4 linked regions of the Homo sapiens genome follow. The protein of the gene in region 1 purifies or fractionates together with the protein of each later gene. This does not show direct contact. Each region holds a gene or a part of one and is shown in the gene's direction. Other genes may lie near its edges.

What was found. Proteins that work in one complex are often made in the same cells at the same time.
Region 2: the proteins of LGALS7 (region 1) and SLC12A7 purify together in Homo sapiens (affinity purification with mass spectrometry, with the first as the bait; one large-scale study listed by BioGRID). This does not show direct contact.
Region 3: the proteins of LGALS7 (region 1) and PKN2 purify together in Homo sapiens (affinity purification with mass spectrometry, with the first as the bait; one large-scale study listed by BioGRID). This does not show direct contact.
Region 4: the proteins of LGALS7 (region 1) and SFMBT1 purify together in Homo sapiens (affinity purification with mass spectrometry, with the first as the bait; one large-scale study listed by BioGRID). This does not show direct contact.

What each region holds. Positions count from the first base shown.
Region 1 is NC_000019.10:38,770,718-38,774,976, reverse strand, and holds LGALS7 (galectin-7), read left to right. Parts: upstream 1-1,459; 5' UTR 1,460-1,484; coding exon 1,485-1,490; intron 1,491-1,873; coding exon 1,874-1,962; intron 1,963-2,946; coding exon 2,947-3,148; intron 3,149-3,837; coding exon 3,838-3,951; 3' UTR 3,952-4,009; downstream 4,010-4,259. UniProt on the Homo sapiens protein: Could be involved in cell-cell and/or cell-matrix interactions necessary for normal growth control. Pro-apoptotic protein that functions intracellularly upstream of JNK activation and cytochrome c release.
Region 2 is NC_000005.10:1,074,064-1,077,563, reverse strand, and holds part of SLC12A7 (solute carrier family 12 member 7), read left to right. Parts: intron 1-751; coding exon 752-870; intron 871-1,327; coding exon 1,328-1,426; intron 1,427-2,073; coding exon 2,074-2,193; intron 2,194-2,892; coding exon 2,893-2,997; intron 2,998-3,500. UniProt on the Homo sapiens protein: Mediates electroneutral potassium-chloride cotransport when activated by cell swelling. May mediate K(+) uptake into Deiters' cells in the cochlea and contribute to K(+) recycling in the inner ear.
Region 3 is NC_000001.11:88,830,773-88,834,272, forward strand, and holds part of PKN2 (serine/threonine-protein kinase N2), read left to right. Parts: intron 1-1,971; coding exon 1,972-2,079; intron 2,080-2,304; coding exon 2,305-2,385; intron 2,386-2,472; coding exon 2,473-2,676; 3' UTR 2,677-3,500. UniProt on the Homo sapiens protein: PKC-related serine/threonine-protein kinase and Rho/Rac effector protein that participates in specific signal transduction responses in the cell.
Region 4 is NC_000003.12:53,036,074-53,039,573, reverse strand, and holds part of SFMBT1 (scm-like with four MBT domains protein 1), read left to right. Parts: intron 1-3,500. UniProt on the Homo sapiens protein: Histone-binding protein, which is part of various corepressor complexes. Mediates the recruitment of corepressor complexes to target genes, followed by chromatin compaction and repression of transcription.

The sequences.
Region 1 (4,259 bases):
AAGAACTGGTCCCTGAGCTTGGTGCCTTGGAGTGTGTGGGGAGGGGGCGAGAGGCTGGGGGCCTGGGACGCAGAGGGTGGAGGATGGTTCTGGGTCTGCTGTCTCCACCCAAACTTTCCACTGCCAGCCTGCCTCTGCCCAGGCCTCTCAGCAGCCTGCTGGGTGGGGCAGGAGCTGGAGTGGCGAGTGGAAAAGGTCCAGGAGGGCTGCTGGGCTGCTAGGAGTGGTTTCTGCTCAGCTCCCACACCATCCCTGCCTTTCAGAAGCATCTTTCAGCCCTACCCGCCCCTCCACCAAGCCAATTCCCCAACCCTGAGTTCTCTTGCAGAGTCTTAGGCCCAAGGGGGCTGTTTCGGGCCTGGCGGGAGGGTCCCCGCCTTGCTCTGCTTTTGATCTAGGTGGTGATGGAATGCTAGGCCACCCACCACCCCAAAACCCACCTCATCCTGACCTACAAACTTGGTGGCATGATGGTAGCAGTCCTGGAAGGAGGAAGAAGAGAGACTTGAAGGAGAGAAGTGGGACAGGAATATGTGGTAGACAGAGTTAGGGGCAGAGACGGACAGAGTGAGACAGCCAGCCCCAGAGACAGAACCCACAGGAGAGGTGCGAGCAGAGGTGAGGAGAGCCAGAGGTCAGGGCAACGGGTCCTGCACGCTCCTGCCTTTGGCAAATCGCTTCCCATCCCAGCTTCAGCCTCCTCCTCTGTACAATGGGGGTGACCCATACTCCTCCCTGTTGGAATGATGGGGTCCCAATCAGTGATTTCCTGCATCTCCTGGGCAGCCGAGGGGCCTTGGAAATGACAGGCATAGTCCTAGTGGATCCCCTCCTTTCACCCCTCCTGACTGAGGACTTCCATGAACTGGGCACACTCCAGGACCCAGGGGTGCAGCGCTGAGGGGATCAGGCAGGCCCCCTGTGAACCCATGAAGCCACCCTGTCAGTCACTAGTGCTCCTATTGTGGCCGCTGTTCCATTACAGAGGCAGAAGCTTAGATTTCAGCACGGATCAGTCCAGGCAGGAGGTTCTCAGCTGGAGAGAAGGGTCTGGAGTTCCCACCCAGATTGGCCTCCCAGGACCTAATATGTCTGTGTATAAAATAAGAGAAATTACTAACAAATAAATACATGAAATGAGATAGAGGCTCTCCGTGTGCCAGGCAGCGGGAAGACAGGGGTGGAGGGGCAGTGGCACAAGGAGCCTTCTCTGCTGTGAGTTTATTACTATTAAACATTCCCTCTTATTATCAGCTCCTAGGAGAGGGGCAGTGCACCCGGGCCCTGGGTGATGGGGGGATCAGGGCCCCCAAGAAGAGGTGCCACTCCCGCTTCGCCGGGCTTGCCCCAGGGCCAGGGTCCGTGCCAGGTGTGGGTGGTGGGTGGGAAGGGGTGGGGTGAGTCATCAGGGCCAGCCCCGCCCTGCTTTTATTTAAGGTCCCCAGCAGGCCCCACCACCACGGCTGCCCAACCCGGTCCCAGCCATGTCCGTGAGTGCTCCAGGGGCCCGGGGCGGGGCCAAGCAGGGAGGGGGCTGGGGGCTCCTCTTTCAAAGGAGCAAGTGGGCAGTGAGTGTGCCACGGACTGGCCTGGGCTGTGGCCTCCGGGTAACCCCCATCCCGACTGTCCCCTCTACCTCTTTGTGGCTTCCTCTGGGGCCCTCTTTGAGGATCTTTCTGTTTGTCTTTGTTGCTCTCCCCATCTGTTTCCCTGTCTGTTTCTGGTCTCTTTCCTGCCTCTCCGCCACCCTTTCCTCTTCCACTGATTTCTGCCAGTCTCAGCCCTGGTCGGCTCCTCTGAGGGGTGACCCACCTTCTGCCTCCCTCCTTCGGTCTCACCGGCTCACAGTGGCCCCTGCACCCCACTCTTGCAGAACGTCCCCCACAAGTCCTCACTGCCCGAGGGCATCCGCCCTGGCACGGTGCTGAGAATTCGCGGCTTGGTTCCTCCCAATGCCAGCAGGTGAGGCCCCAGGCCCTAGGGGTAAAGGGTACAGGTCTCAGGATCAGCTGACTCCCAATTTTTGCAGTCCAGAAGTAGGGGCCCGAGGCCACCTGTATCCACCAGGCTAGGAGTCCGAGGCCATTTCTGACCTCAAATCTGATGTATTCGTATTTGCCCCCGTGCCTTTGTGGCTGGGGTCCCTAAGTTTCCCTAAGCATTTGAGGTCCCTGGGTAATCTCAGGGTTCCTAGATATAGTCCTATGACTTCCATGTCTGAGTCCCAGGGAACTCTGGAAATACTCCAAGTCCTGGAGACACCCTGGACCCTGGGAGTCCTTGCCAAGCCATCCTTTGACTTCCTGGCTAAGGAACTTCGGGCCTTCTGGATTCTGAGGTACCCTGGAAATACTGGGGTTCCTGGTATTATTCTTTGTCCTGTAGAAGCTGAGGGTTCCCTGAGCATCAGGAGCACCCTGGCTATCACCCAGACCTCCTGGGCAGCTCCCAGGCTCTTTGGAAATGAGGGCACCCTGCCCTAAGCGTAGTGAGTTTGGTCTGGGTAGGTTTCTGCCAAGGGCCTCATGATATTTTGGCTGCCTTGGGAATCTAAGCTCCCTGGTCATTAGTCGCCTACCTCTCCTTCTGCGGTGTGTGCCTGTCTTCAGGTCCCTGTTAATTTGGGGGTACTCTGGGAATGGGGAGTGCCAGTCCATAAGACCTTCACTTTGGTCTGGGCGGTTTATGTTTTGTTTGTTCTTTCGTTTTTTTGTAAGGTGGGGTCTCGCTATGTTGCCCAGGCTGGTCTTTAACTTCCGGGCCCAAGCGATCCTCCCTTCTCCACCTCCCAGAGTGCTGGGATTACAGGGTGAGCCACTGCACCCAGCCAACATTTCATTTACTTATTCATTCAAAGTAAATTGTAGACATCGGTATTCCTCACCCTCAACATTTCTTGGTCTGGGTGGTTTCTGAGCCCTGACGGCCACCATCCTCCTCTTCCAGGTTCCATGTAAACCTGCTGTGCGGGGAGGAGCAGGGCTCCGATGCCGCGCTGCATTTCAACCCCCGGCTGGACACGTCGGAGGTGGTCTTCAACAGCAAGGAGCAAGGCTCCTGGGGCCGCGAGGAGCGCGGGCCGGGCGTTCCTTTCCAGCGCGGGCAGCCCTTCGAGGTGCTCATCATCGCGTCAGACGACGGCTTCAAGGTGCGTCTCTGCGACAGGGGCGTGGACGCCAAGACTTAGGTCCCTGGAGCAGAGGGTTGGGCAAAGCCAGGCTATTGGTGGAAGGCAGGGAGGTTCGGGGCGGGGTGAGGGGGGTAGGGAAGTCGTGGCCAAGGCGGAGAAGGGTGTCCTTCGACCCTCTCTCTCGCCTAAACAACTCCCACTTGGGTCCGAGGGACAGAGAGACAGCAGGGTCAGGACGAGGCGAGCACCAGCCAAGTGTCCAAGGGGTGGGCGTCCTAGCGGGAAGGCGTGGCCCAGACTCGCCATCCCAGACCCTACTCCCAGTTCATTCCTTCCTGAGGTCCGGGGTTTGAGGCATGGGGAGGGATGGGTTGGAAACAGCGCCCAGGAACTCGTCCTAGCAAGGATTGGCGGGTGGGAGTGGCGGCAGATCCTCCACCACCCACAGCTTACGCGAATTCACCTCCCTCCTCTGCGCTTTAATAGCGGGTAATGGTCGCTGAAATGAGAATATCCATTACCAGCACTAAAAAAGCCTCTTTTTACTGTGCCACACAGTCAACTCGTTTGATCCTCACGCAAGAGTTAGAATGAACAATAGCCCCATTTTCCCAGTGAGGAAACTGAGGCCCAGAGGGGATGAGTGATTTCCCCAGGGCCACCCAGCACGGGCCTCCGGAATCCTCACCACCGACCCTCCCCTGCAGGCCGTGGTTGGGGACGCCCAGTACCACCACTTCCGCCACCGCCTGCCGCTGGCGCGCGTGCGCCTGGTGGAGGTGGGCGGGGACGTGCAGCTGGACTCCGTGAGGATCTTCTGAGCAGAAGCCCAGGCGGGCCCGGGGCCTTGGCTGGCAAATAAAGCGTTAGCCCGCAGCGCGACTGTGTCTGTGTCCCATTCACTGAGATGAGCAAACTGAGACCCAGAGAGGCCAAGATACTGGCTCCGGGCCACACAGCGAATCCGAGGCGGAGGCGGGCTCTGAGCCTGCCTGTGCTTAGGACACTTTCTGTCTGCGAAGGCGTGAGGGTCGCGATCTGGGAAGGAGTGGGTGTGGGGCGTGCCCTGACGCAGCATTTGTGCAAAGCAAGCCAGCTGGGAATGCGGTCGGGCGGACCTGCTGGCGTT
Region 2 (3,500 bases), on another chromosome or scaffold:
CCAGAGGTGCCTGGTCTGTTGTCTGGTCAGAAGCCCTCTGCCTGCCTGCCACATCTTTCTCTGTGTGGCTGAGCTCTTCAGCCCGTGGGAGGTGGCGTCACCAGCCACCTGCAGCCAGTGTGTGTGGCTGCTCTGAGGATTGCACGGACGCCCGCATGGGTCCTGTCCGTGTGCTGTGCCCAGAGCTGCCGATTGTGGCTCCTCCTGCTACCTGGGCCCAGGGGCAGCTGTGGGAAGGTCGTGGATGGCAGAGCCATCCTTGCCCGTCGCTGGTCCCTCGGCAGGGTGCCGACCCGCAGGGCCTTTGTGTGGTTGCATCTTCAGTCCCAGCCGGGCCTAGGGCATGGTGTCCAGGAAGGGGACAGGCACACAGGCCCCGTGGGCCTCAGCTTCTGGGAGGTGAGGGTGGCCTGATGAGAAAGGTCACCACAGGGTCTGGGGAACCGCGAGTGCCCTGGAGACGCTGGTCCTGTGTTGTGTGGTCGGGGAAACTGAGGCGGGGGGGCAGGCTGGGGCCACACAGGTTGCAGGCAAGCCGGGCGTAGGCACAGCTCTGAAGCCTCCTGGGCTGCAGCCCTTTGTCAGGGCTTCTTCCCAGGCCAGCCGCGTGATGTCCCGGGGACCTACTGTGAAAGGCGTTTCTGCTGGTCTGTGTCTTTAAGATTCATCTGGGCTAGACCTGACCAGCCTGCAGCTTCTCTCCTAAAAGGGTGGTGTCATCTGCCCCATCTTCCTGCCCTTCTCCCTGCAGGTGTTTGGCCACGGGAAGGCCAACGGGGAGCCCACGTGGGCGCTGCTGCTGACAGTCCTCATCTGCGAGACTGGCATCCTCATCGCCTCTCTGGACAGCGTGGCCCCGATCCTCTCCATGTGAGCCCCCACAGGACGGGGACCTGGGGATGGGTGTATGGGCCTGGAGCGTGGGGCAGTGTGGATGGGAGGTCCTGCTCAGGACAAGCAGTAGACAGGCATGGCCAGCTGTGGGCAGTCAGGATCCTGCCGGGAAGGGAGTTGCGCCGGGGAAGACAAGTACACAGGCCTCCAGGCAGCCGCCCGCTGGGGTCAGCCAGGGACAGTGTGGCTGGACAGACGGCTGCTGGGGAAGGGACGATGGCCCATCTCTTGATGGACCAGGTGGTCACAGGATGGCTGGAACCTGAGGGGGCCTGATTCGGAATCAGTCTGAGTCAGCTCACGTGCAGAGACAGACATGGGGAGACAAGGCGCAGGTGGGAGGGACAGTGACAAGGGTGGTCTCCCAGGTGGCAGTGACTGGGGGCTCAGGGGGGCCCAGTGGGCCCGTATCAGTGGCCGGCCGTCCCTGCAGGTTCTTCCTCATGTGCTACCTGTTCGTGAACCTGGCCTGCGCCGTGCAGACCCTGCTACGTACCCCCAACTGGCGTCCACGCTTCAAGTTCTACCACTGGTGAGGCCACTCAGCACGGGCGTGAGGAGCCCCACAGGCTGGGACACTGGGTGCCTCTGCCACTGGTGAGGCCGCTCAGCACAGGCGTCAGGAGCCCCACAGGCTGGGACACTGGGTGCCTCTACAAGGCCAGCTGCTCTGGGCCTGAAGACCCCAGCGCGTCCTTGACTGTTCCTTTGCGGAGTAAGCCCCTGCGCAGCTGATGAGACTGCACCTGAGGAAGGCCTCTGGTTACGAGGATGCCCAGGTGTCTGCATGTGCCTTGTACCTCCCGTGGTCAGCCCAGCCTTCCCAGGCTTGGGGCGTAGCCCATCAGGGCTGTGGGTCTTCTTAACTCCCCTCCCCAGGAATCAGGCGCTGGGTGGACGCTTCAGCCCCTTGTTGCATGCACAGCCGAGGTGCTGTGTGCACGCTGGGAGCTGGAGCTATGTACTGGGTTTTGGAGTGACAGCTCCCACAGGGGCCCAGGGAGCCACGTCACCCCTCAGAGGTGGTTGAGTACAGCCATGGTCGTCAGGCGTCAGTGACTGTTTTCCTAGTGTTAACAGAGAGTTTTACTGAGGGAGGGGCAGTGTCCGTGTGGTGGTGGCTGAGGTGTGGGGGCTGCATGGCGTTGGGCCGCCCCGAGCCACTTGCCCCGCCCCCAGGACCCTGTCCTTTCTGGGTATGAGCCTGTGCCTGGCGCTGATGTTCATCTGCTCCTGGTACTACGCGCTGTCCGCCATGCTCATCGCTGGCTGCATCTACAAGTACATCGAGTACCGCGGGTAAGCGCTGTCAGCCCCCCTTACAGACCCGGCGCACGGGAGGGCGGGCCCCTCTCATGCTATGCCTGGGGCAGCTCCCTGGAGGGGCCTCCCTGGGGCTTGAGCGTCGTGTGCCCTCACAGGGGCAGCTGGGAGCACGTCCAGGTGGGCTGTGTTGTGAAAGCTGGGGTTTCCCTCCCACTTCCAGCCAGGCCGAGGTGCCTGCACTTGTGGACAGGGTCTCCAGCCTGGAGCTCTGTCTCGTGCCGTCCTCAGCAGGCGGTGAGCCCACGGCTGACTATTCCTGCTACGTGTCTCGCGAGGTGTCCCCAGGTTGTGTCTGTACTCACTCGGCAGCCACAGGCGTCCTTCCCCGTGCCCCAGCACCCACCCTCCCTCCACCTGCACCCGCCTCGTGCCCGGGGTCCAGCCACTTCCCTGTCATGGGCCTCCTGTCCCCCGTCCTGTGAGGAAGGCACCTCACGCATGCTGGACGTAGACCTCGTTCCCTCCACAGCCACAGCACCCTCTGACCCGGTGGCTCCTAGGACGGGCTCCCTTCAGGGCAAGGGTGGGCATGGAGGCCTCCCTCCTCATCCAGGGACTTTTCCTGGGGGTCCTGTTTGCCCCAACTCACCTGCCCCCAGAAGTCCCCTTTCCCAGGTGGGAGAGGAGCCTCCAGGTACGCGGCTGGACAAACCCCGACTTCCTTTCCCACAGGGCCGAGAAGGAGTGGGGCGATGGCATCCGTGGCCTATCCCTGAACGCCGCCCGCTACGCCCTGCTGCGCGTGGAGCACGGTCCCCCCCACACCAAGAACTGGAGGTGAGCACCGCCCATGCCCCGTGGTCCTCAGACGCACAGAAGAGCTGTTTCTGAGGTCGGCCTTTGAGTGGGGACCTTTGAGTCTCAGGGGCCTCTCACCTTCAGCCGCTCAGGCAAGGTCTGGGGTGTGAACACTGCCTGGTGCAGAGCGGATGGCGCAGCTGGGGGCCGGGGGTGTCCCTGCTGCAGGGTGGGGGTGTGGGGAGCCGGCCCCTCTGCCAGCACAGCCCTGGGCTTGGGGTGGGAGAGGGTGGCTCCTGCTGAAGCAAAGGCCATCTTTGGGAAGCCTCTGCCCCTCAGGGCCTCGGCGGGGGCCTCAGGTGTGTGCCCCGGGCCATTGTCCCCTCAGGGGCCTCGGCGGGGGCCTCGGGTGTGCCCCGGGCCATTGTCCCCTCAGGGCCTCGGTGGGGGCTTCAGGTGTGTGTCCTGGGCCATTGTCTCACCTGTCTAGCATGTCACCTGTCCCACCTGTCTAACCTACCTGTTCTCCTGTCCTGCCTGGC
Region 3 (3,500 bases), on another chromosome or scaffold:
CTTCACAGTTGTTTCTTGCAATTTCTCTTTAGTATCTCCACAAGAGGGTAGCTGGGAAAAGAACTAAACTTAAAACTCATCAGTCTACTTCATAATTTTATAGCATTAGTGAAATGCTAGTGATAACTCCTTTTTAACTATGATGAAAGTAAGGTGTGGCTAAAGTTTATGTCAGATTTCTCTATTATTACAAATAATTGTAAACTCACCGGATATATTATACATGTTCAGATTTGTATACTTCTACTAGTTTTGATTACTGGAAAGACTCCAGGAATAAACAAACATCGCAAGTCCCCTTTTTCCTGTCTCAGATGGGAGTGAAGATACCAGAGAGATTGAACAGAATGCTGGACATGGTTTTAGATACTGTCAGTGTTGACATCTGAACAGACTATTGGTTTCCTTTAAATGTGCTGAAAACACATTTGTTAGCTTTCAGTTGTTAGCCCTGTTTGCTTACAATCTATTTGCAGAAAAAAGATACTACATATTTTAACAAATGTATAGATATTTCTTTGCTGTTCAGACTTGTAGAATGAGTTTTCAAGTAAAAATTGTTCAAGCAGAAGACCAAAGTGCTGTCTTTGTATTATCCATTGAAATTCCCATTGAGAATCCTAGTAAAATAAAATTTTCTTCTGACTTACTGTTTCAGTCCCCAGAAGAAATTAGATTGTCCATGTAGTACATTTGATTTATGTATTTTGAGTGTACTACATTGTCCCACGTAGTATATTTTATTTATGTATTTTGAGTGAGTGAATGAACAAACTAAGGTTTTGGTAACTGTAAGCTTTGAAATTTTCTTAGCTGTGAGCAAGATTAGAAGCTCAGCCTTAAGAAGTTGGATTCTGAATTTATTTTCACAGATTCTTAAAGATTGCTCACTTTCCCTGGATATTGCTTTCTGCTTATTATTCTTTAAAACTTAATTGGAAGCAAGCAGCCAAATCAAATCTAACGAGGCTAAGTAAGCCTATATTTCTTCAATAGCCAGTGAGAAAATAAGGTTCAAGATACTAATTCATTTCAGTGATTTTAAGGAATTAAATGATATTTAGACATTTGTTTCCTGATTTAAAAAATGACTGAGTGATTTTTAAGCCATCTGAAATTCTGAGGCAGGCAGTCACATTTGATAGACACGTTTTTAGCATAGTTGAAAGTTTCTCTCTTTGTGAATCAAATTGTCATACTGAATATAATGTAACTACTTTTTTATGTCTCAGGGTCATTATGAAAAATGATTTTAATACTGAGCTTATGGAAATGCCCTAAAACTTTTTGTGTTTAGAACATTAAAAATGCCTGGCAATGTGTGCTTTTTGGGTTCCTTTCAGTCTAATTTTGTTGGCAGCTGCTTCTTAATACAGTCATTATGCTTGCTAATCCATGATTGTGTTTTACCACCATTAATTTACTGTTGACTTTAAAATCCAAAGCACATTTATATCTGATGTATTTCCGCAGATTGCCTTCCTTTATTATAACATTTATTACCATATTAACCTTATCCATTTTCTTCTGTTTTTCCACAAGATTGAGGTTCTTCAGGATTTATCTATTATCTAAATATTCCCTACTGTCTGTTAGACACTAAAAATTGACTGTCTGGCCAAATAGGTGATTGAGTGAATGAAATAAAATGGAATGGAGTGGAATGAAATTAAATGAAAAGTCATATCATATATGAGATAGACAAGTTTTTTATAAGGGTCTATAAAATTTAAAGATTTCAGAAAGAGTATATGGTGTATTCCCTCTGTAATAGATACATATCTGTTGTCACTTCTTATAGTTCTTTTGTTGTTGTTTTGGTAGGCATGGGTTTATTGTTGTTGTTGTTGTTGTTGTTGTTTTGTCTGTTTTTTCTTTTTCACTGCCTGGATCTTGGTTGTACTTTGAATGGGTGATAAGATTTTACTGCCTTAAAACTTGCTTTAACTTACTCAAAGGTATTTCTTCTAGTCTCCCTTTCCTGGTGATGATGAAGAGGAAGTTTTTGACAGTATTGTAAATGATGAAGTAAGGTATCCAAGGTTCTTATCTACAGAAGCCATTTCTATAATGAGAAGGGTAAGAATTAAAATAAGGATAAGAATTTTTTAAAGACTACTTTAATTTTTTATACTAAAGAAAATTTCCCAGTAGAACTTTAAAAGCTGTTTTTCAGTTCATAAATGTTGCATGGCTTAGACAAAAAAAGACAAAATATATCTAAGTTTTTTAAAGTAATAATCCTTATCAGTGAATTTTATTCTATTGGTTTTATTTTAACTTTTTTATTTTACATTATGCTAGCTGTTAAGAAGAAATCCTGAACGGCGCCTTGGGGCTAGCGAGAAAGATGCAGAGGATGTAAAAAAGCACCCATTTTTCCGGGTAAGTGTGACTATTTAAAATTTTTTATGAAACTAGAGCGATTAGATTTAACAAACTAAACTAGTCATTTTTTATTTTATGATCCAGCTAATTGATTGGAGCGCTCTGATGGACAAAAAAGTAAAGCCACCATTTATACCTACCATAAGAGGACGAGAAGATGTTAGTAATTTTGATGATGAATTTACCTCAGAAGCACCTATTCTGACTCCACCTCGAGAACCAAGGATACTTTCGGAAGAGGAGCAGGAAATGTTCAGAGATTTTGACTACATTGCTGATTGGTGTTAAGTTGCTAGACACTGCGAAACCAAGCTGACTCACAAGAAGACCTCTTAAAAATAGCAACCCTTCATTTGCTCTCTGTGCCACCAATAGCTTCTGAGTTTTTTGTTGTTGTTGTTTTTATTGAAACACGTGAAGATTTGTTTAAAAGTACCATTCTAATACTTCTTCAAAAGTGGCTCCTCATTGTACTTCAGCGTAAATATGAGCACTGGAAACAGTTTCATGGAGTTTAAGTTGAGTGAACATCGGCCATGAAAATCCATCACGAATACTTTTGGATCAATAGTCTATTTTTAAAAAGAAAGAAAAAAACCACTTTTTTATAGTCCCTAGCTTTGCCATATGCCCGCCTTAAGTGGAAGGAAAGTTAATCACTTAACTATGTTTTATAAAAAGAAAAAAGGGCTTGGAATGCTATTACTGTTCACACAAAGTATGATTCTGTTTGAATAAGGCAAATGCTCCTTTTTTTAAAAAAAAAGACATTACTGTAATATCAAAAACCGTGGCAGTTTGTATACAACTCGGGGCTTGATTTTTTTTAAAAAAACAGAATGAATTGATGTCTTATTTTATAAATGTTCTATATTTATTAGGAGAAAACTTTATATTGCCTTTTTTATCAATCATGTAACAGGCTTATAGCTTTCCAACAGAGCTGCTTGCCAAACAATTTTTTTTGTTTATTAAACAGTGCTGAAACAAACAGGATCAGCATTTACTTAAGATGTTAAGAATGAGGACTTTTAATCAGCCGAACCAAGATATTGTTACCTGTATGCATTCCCAAAGTCTAGATGCTCAGTATGTTCAGTCATATCTTTCAG
Region 4 (3,500 bases), on another chromosome or scaffold:
TTAAGTACATTGACATTGTTGTGTAACCATTACCACCATCCATCTCTAGAACTTTTTTAATCTTCCCAGACTGGAACTCTGTACCCATGAAACAGGGATTCCCCAACTCCCCTCCTCCCACCCTAGACAACCACTGTTCTACTTTCTGTCTTTATGATTTTGACTATTCTAGGTACTTCATCTAAGTGGAATCATACAGTATTTATCCTTTTGTGATTGCCTTAATTCACTTAACATAATGTCTTTAAGGTTCATCCATGTTGTAGCATGTGTCAGAATTTTTTTTGAGGAAGTAAATTATTTGAAAGACTTCCACAGCAGGTAAAGTGGAGGTCAGGTCACAGAATACTGTTTGCTAGGATTTGTTTACCTCCCTTGGAAGAACTCCGTATGTGCCCAGCAGAGCCTAGAGAACCAGGTACCTTGTCCTTAGATACAGTTTGGGCACACTTGCTTATTCGAACAAAAGAAACAGAGCAGATTGTGACAGCAGGGTGGAAGACAAGGAGAACATAAAAGCAAAGGTTGCAGGAGTCCAGGGTAACATTGAGTAAGGAGTAAGGCCTTTTGGGTCTCAGGATGCCATCTTACTGTGTGATCACTGACATTCGTGGTGTGGGCCTGTGTCAAAGCATGTCGTCCAGAACAGTTAACCAAAAAAATATGTGTGTTCAGAATTGTAAATAAGCCTTCACCTATCTGAAAGGCATATTCAGTGACTCAATCCCCAGCTGTTCTGGTTAGTTGAGGTTTTGCCATATTTCACTCTTGTTTCTGTATTGATAGAAAACTAGTACGTGTTTAAAAAGGCTTAATGACTTACATAATAATGATACCACCTAATTAATGCTTTGTATTTTAGATTTGCTGTATCACTTTAATTCTGTATTTGTGAAATATAGATGTCCAATCCTGGTTGGAGAGAAAGCAGGTTTGACAGTTAAGGGTAATAGAGAGTTGAGCAGGTATGTACTTTCAGAATGGTTAAAGAGTTATATTTTCCTCCATTATTATTTTTAATGGCTGTATTAATGTAGTAAATGTGGGATGAGTTTCCTAATACTGTTTGTTACCGGGGGGAGGCCATCTCTTAATTACTGTCCTTTCTTCATGGCAAGGATGTTTTTGACTTTCTGGAAACCATTGAAGAATAGACAGTAAATGTCATGAAGCCTGATTTTTATTGTGCGTTGTGTTACTATTCAATTCTTAAGAATGGTTAGTTGTTTCCTAGAGTTAGTAAGGCTTTTCTGAGAAAGTATCAGTTTCTTTGGCATGATGTTGTCTAATAGAGCATAGAGCCACGGTAGTAAAAGTCAATGGTTAGGGGAGGAGATACAGGGTAGGAGACAGTTGTCTAAACTGGAGTGCCTGGGCTCAAGCACTTCTCCTGCCTCAGCCTCCTGAGTAGCTAGGACTACAGGTGCATGCCCCAGCACCTGGCTAATTTTTTAAAACATTTTTTTTTTGAGACAAAGTTTTGCTCTTGTTGCCCAGGCTGGAGTGCAGCGGTGCAATCTTGGCCACCTCCGCCTCCTGGTTTCAAGTGATTCTACTACCTCAGCCTCCCGAGTAGCTGGGATTACAGGTGCCTGCCACCATGCCTGGCTAATTTTTTGTATTTTTTGGTAGAGACAGGGTTTCATCATGTTGGCCAGGCTGGTCTTGAACCCCTGACCTCAGGCGATCCATCCGCCTTGGCCTCCTAAAGTGCTGAGATTACAGGTGTGAGCCACTGCGCCGGGCCTTTAAAACATTTTTTGTAGAGATGGGGTCTCTCAGTGTTGTCCAACCTGGTCTCAAAACTTCTGGCCTCAAGTGATTCTCTAGCCTCAGCTTCCCAAAGTGCTGGGATTACAGGCATGAGCCACTATGCCCAGCCTGGTTTTCATTTTTATCATTGAGCAAAATGAGCAGGGTTGGGTGGTCTAGCTAAAGATAGAAATTTGAGAAACTTCGGGTGTATTATTGTTGTTATAGGTGTTTATGATGGTATTAAAACATCTGAATCCCTTGATCTCTTAATGTAATTAATATTAATTTAATTTTATTTCTCTTTTAATGTTGGCTTTCCAGTCCTCAATCAAGTTATAGTTGCACTTAAAAATACGTAGTTTTCTTTATCGTTAATATGAATAACACCATATGCAAATTGGGAAACAGGCTTAGATCTTCTCCTAGGCATTATCTGTACCCAGTTTTCCTGTAAGTATTCAATTGGGCTCCTCAATCAACAGAGAAGAGCTTCAAATGACTTTCTTTGTTGTCAGGCTCCATTCTCAGGAATGGCTATGACAAGGGAAGCAGAGGGCTGGGTGGTCTCTTCTGGCCTCCCCTTCTAGGGAGAGTCTTCCTTTTCTGCAGCAAGTGCTTGAGGAGGGCTGCATGATCCCGCAGCCAGTCAGGGCGGTAAGACACAACTGCCCTCACCCTAGCTCCTCTCCTAGCCATTGACTTTTACTCCTGTTTTTGGCTTTCTATTGACTTTGTCTGACAGGAGTGCTTTCCGGAATAGTGTGCTGGTGAAATGTTGGGTTCTCTACAGCCTCCTTCAGAGGATTCCCTGTTCTCCCTATGCCTCGTCTTTTATCTCATTGTGACCTTCATTTTCTCCCAGAGTCCCAGCCCCATCAGGCCTGGACCCACTGTCTAATCTTTGAGCTGCTCCCTAGCCAATCCACTTTGTTCTTTCCCTCTTTCCCTTCTGTGGCCCCGTAAGCCACCTGCAGCCTTCCAGCCAGTGCCTCTCTCTGCTCCTGGATATAGACTACCTTGGAGGAGAATTCAGGTTCTCCAGAAAGACCTGTCTTGAGGCAGACCTTTCTGTCTTTGCCTTCTGTAACCTTTTAAGACCTTCCCTTCTTTCTATTTACATCTCTCTCAATGAAGTTGTCCACATTTAGAGTTTGTCTAGCTCCTGTGCTCCTCTAAGACCCCTACATCCCTGCCCGTTGGGCTTCCAAGTTGGGTGCCACACTGGCATCTCAGAATCCACAGGTCCAAAATAGAATTTCTCCTTCTACCCCAAAGACGCCAGTCCTCTAGTGGGCCTGTTTGCCCAGGTCTCTTTCTTTACATTGCTCCTCAGCGATGGTGTTTGTTTTGTCCACTGGGAGCTTTCCTGTGGGACTTGAGGTCTTATTCTTCAATTGCCAGCCTTGGAGTTAGAACGTACAGTTCTGACTCCTTGGTTTTCAAGTGTTTTTAAAGTTGTGGAACCCTTTGTTCAAATGAAATCTTTCTAGGAAGCCCGATAAGTAAAATAAAATGAGAGTCCTCCTAGTGGAGTAGGGGTGAAGGGCCAGCATCCTGTCCCACGGCAGGATAGCTGGACATTCTCTGCTTCCCTCTCCTCCCAGGCAGGACTGGCGGCTGGCTCTTGGGGCAGCCTTCCCAGTGGATTCTGCATAAATGGAGCTCCTCAGAGTTGCTGTCAGCACTGCTTTGAGGGCATGCTCTATGTTTTAAACCATTTTATCTATTCTGTACCCCACTTCCTT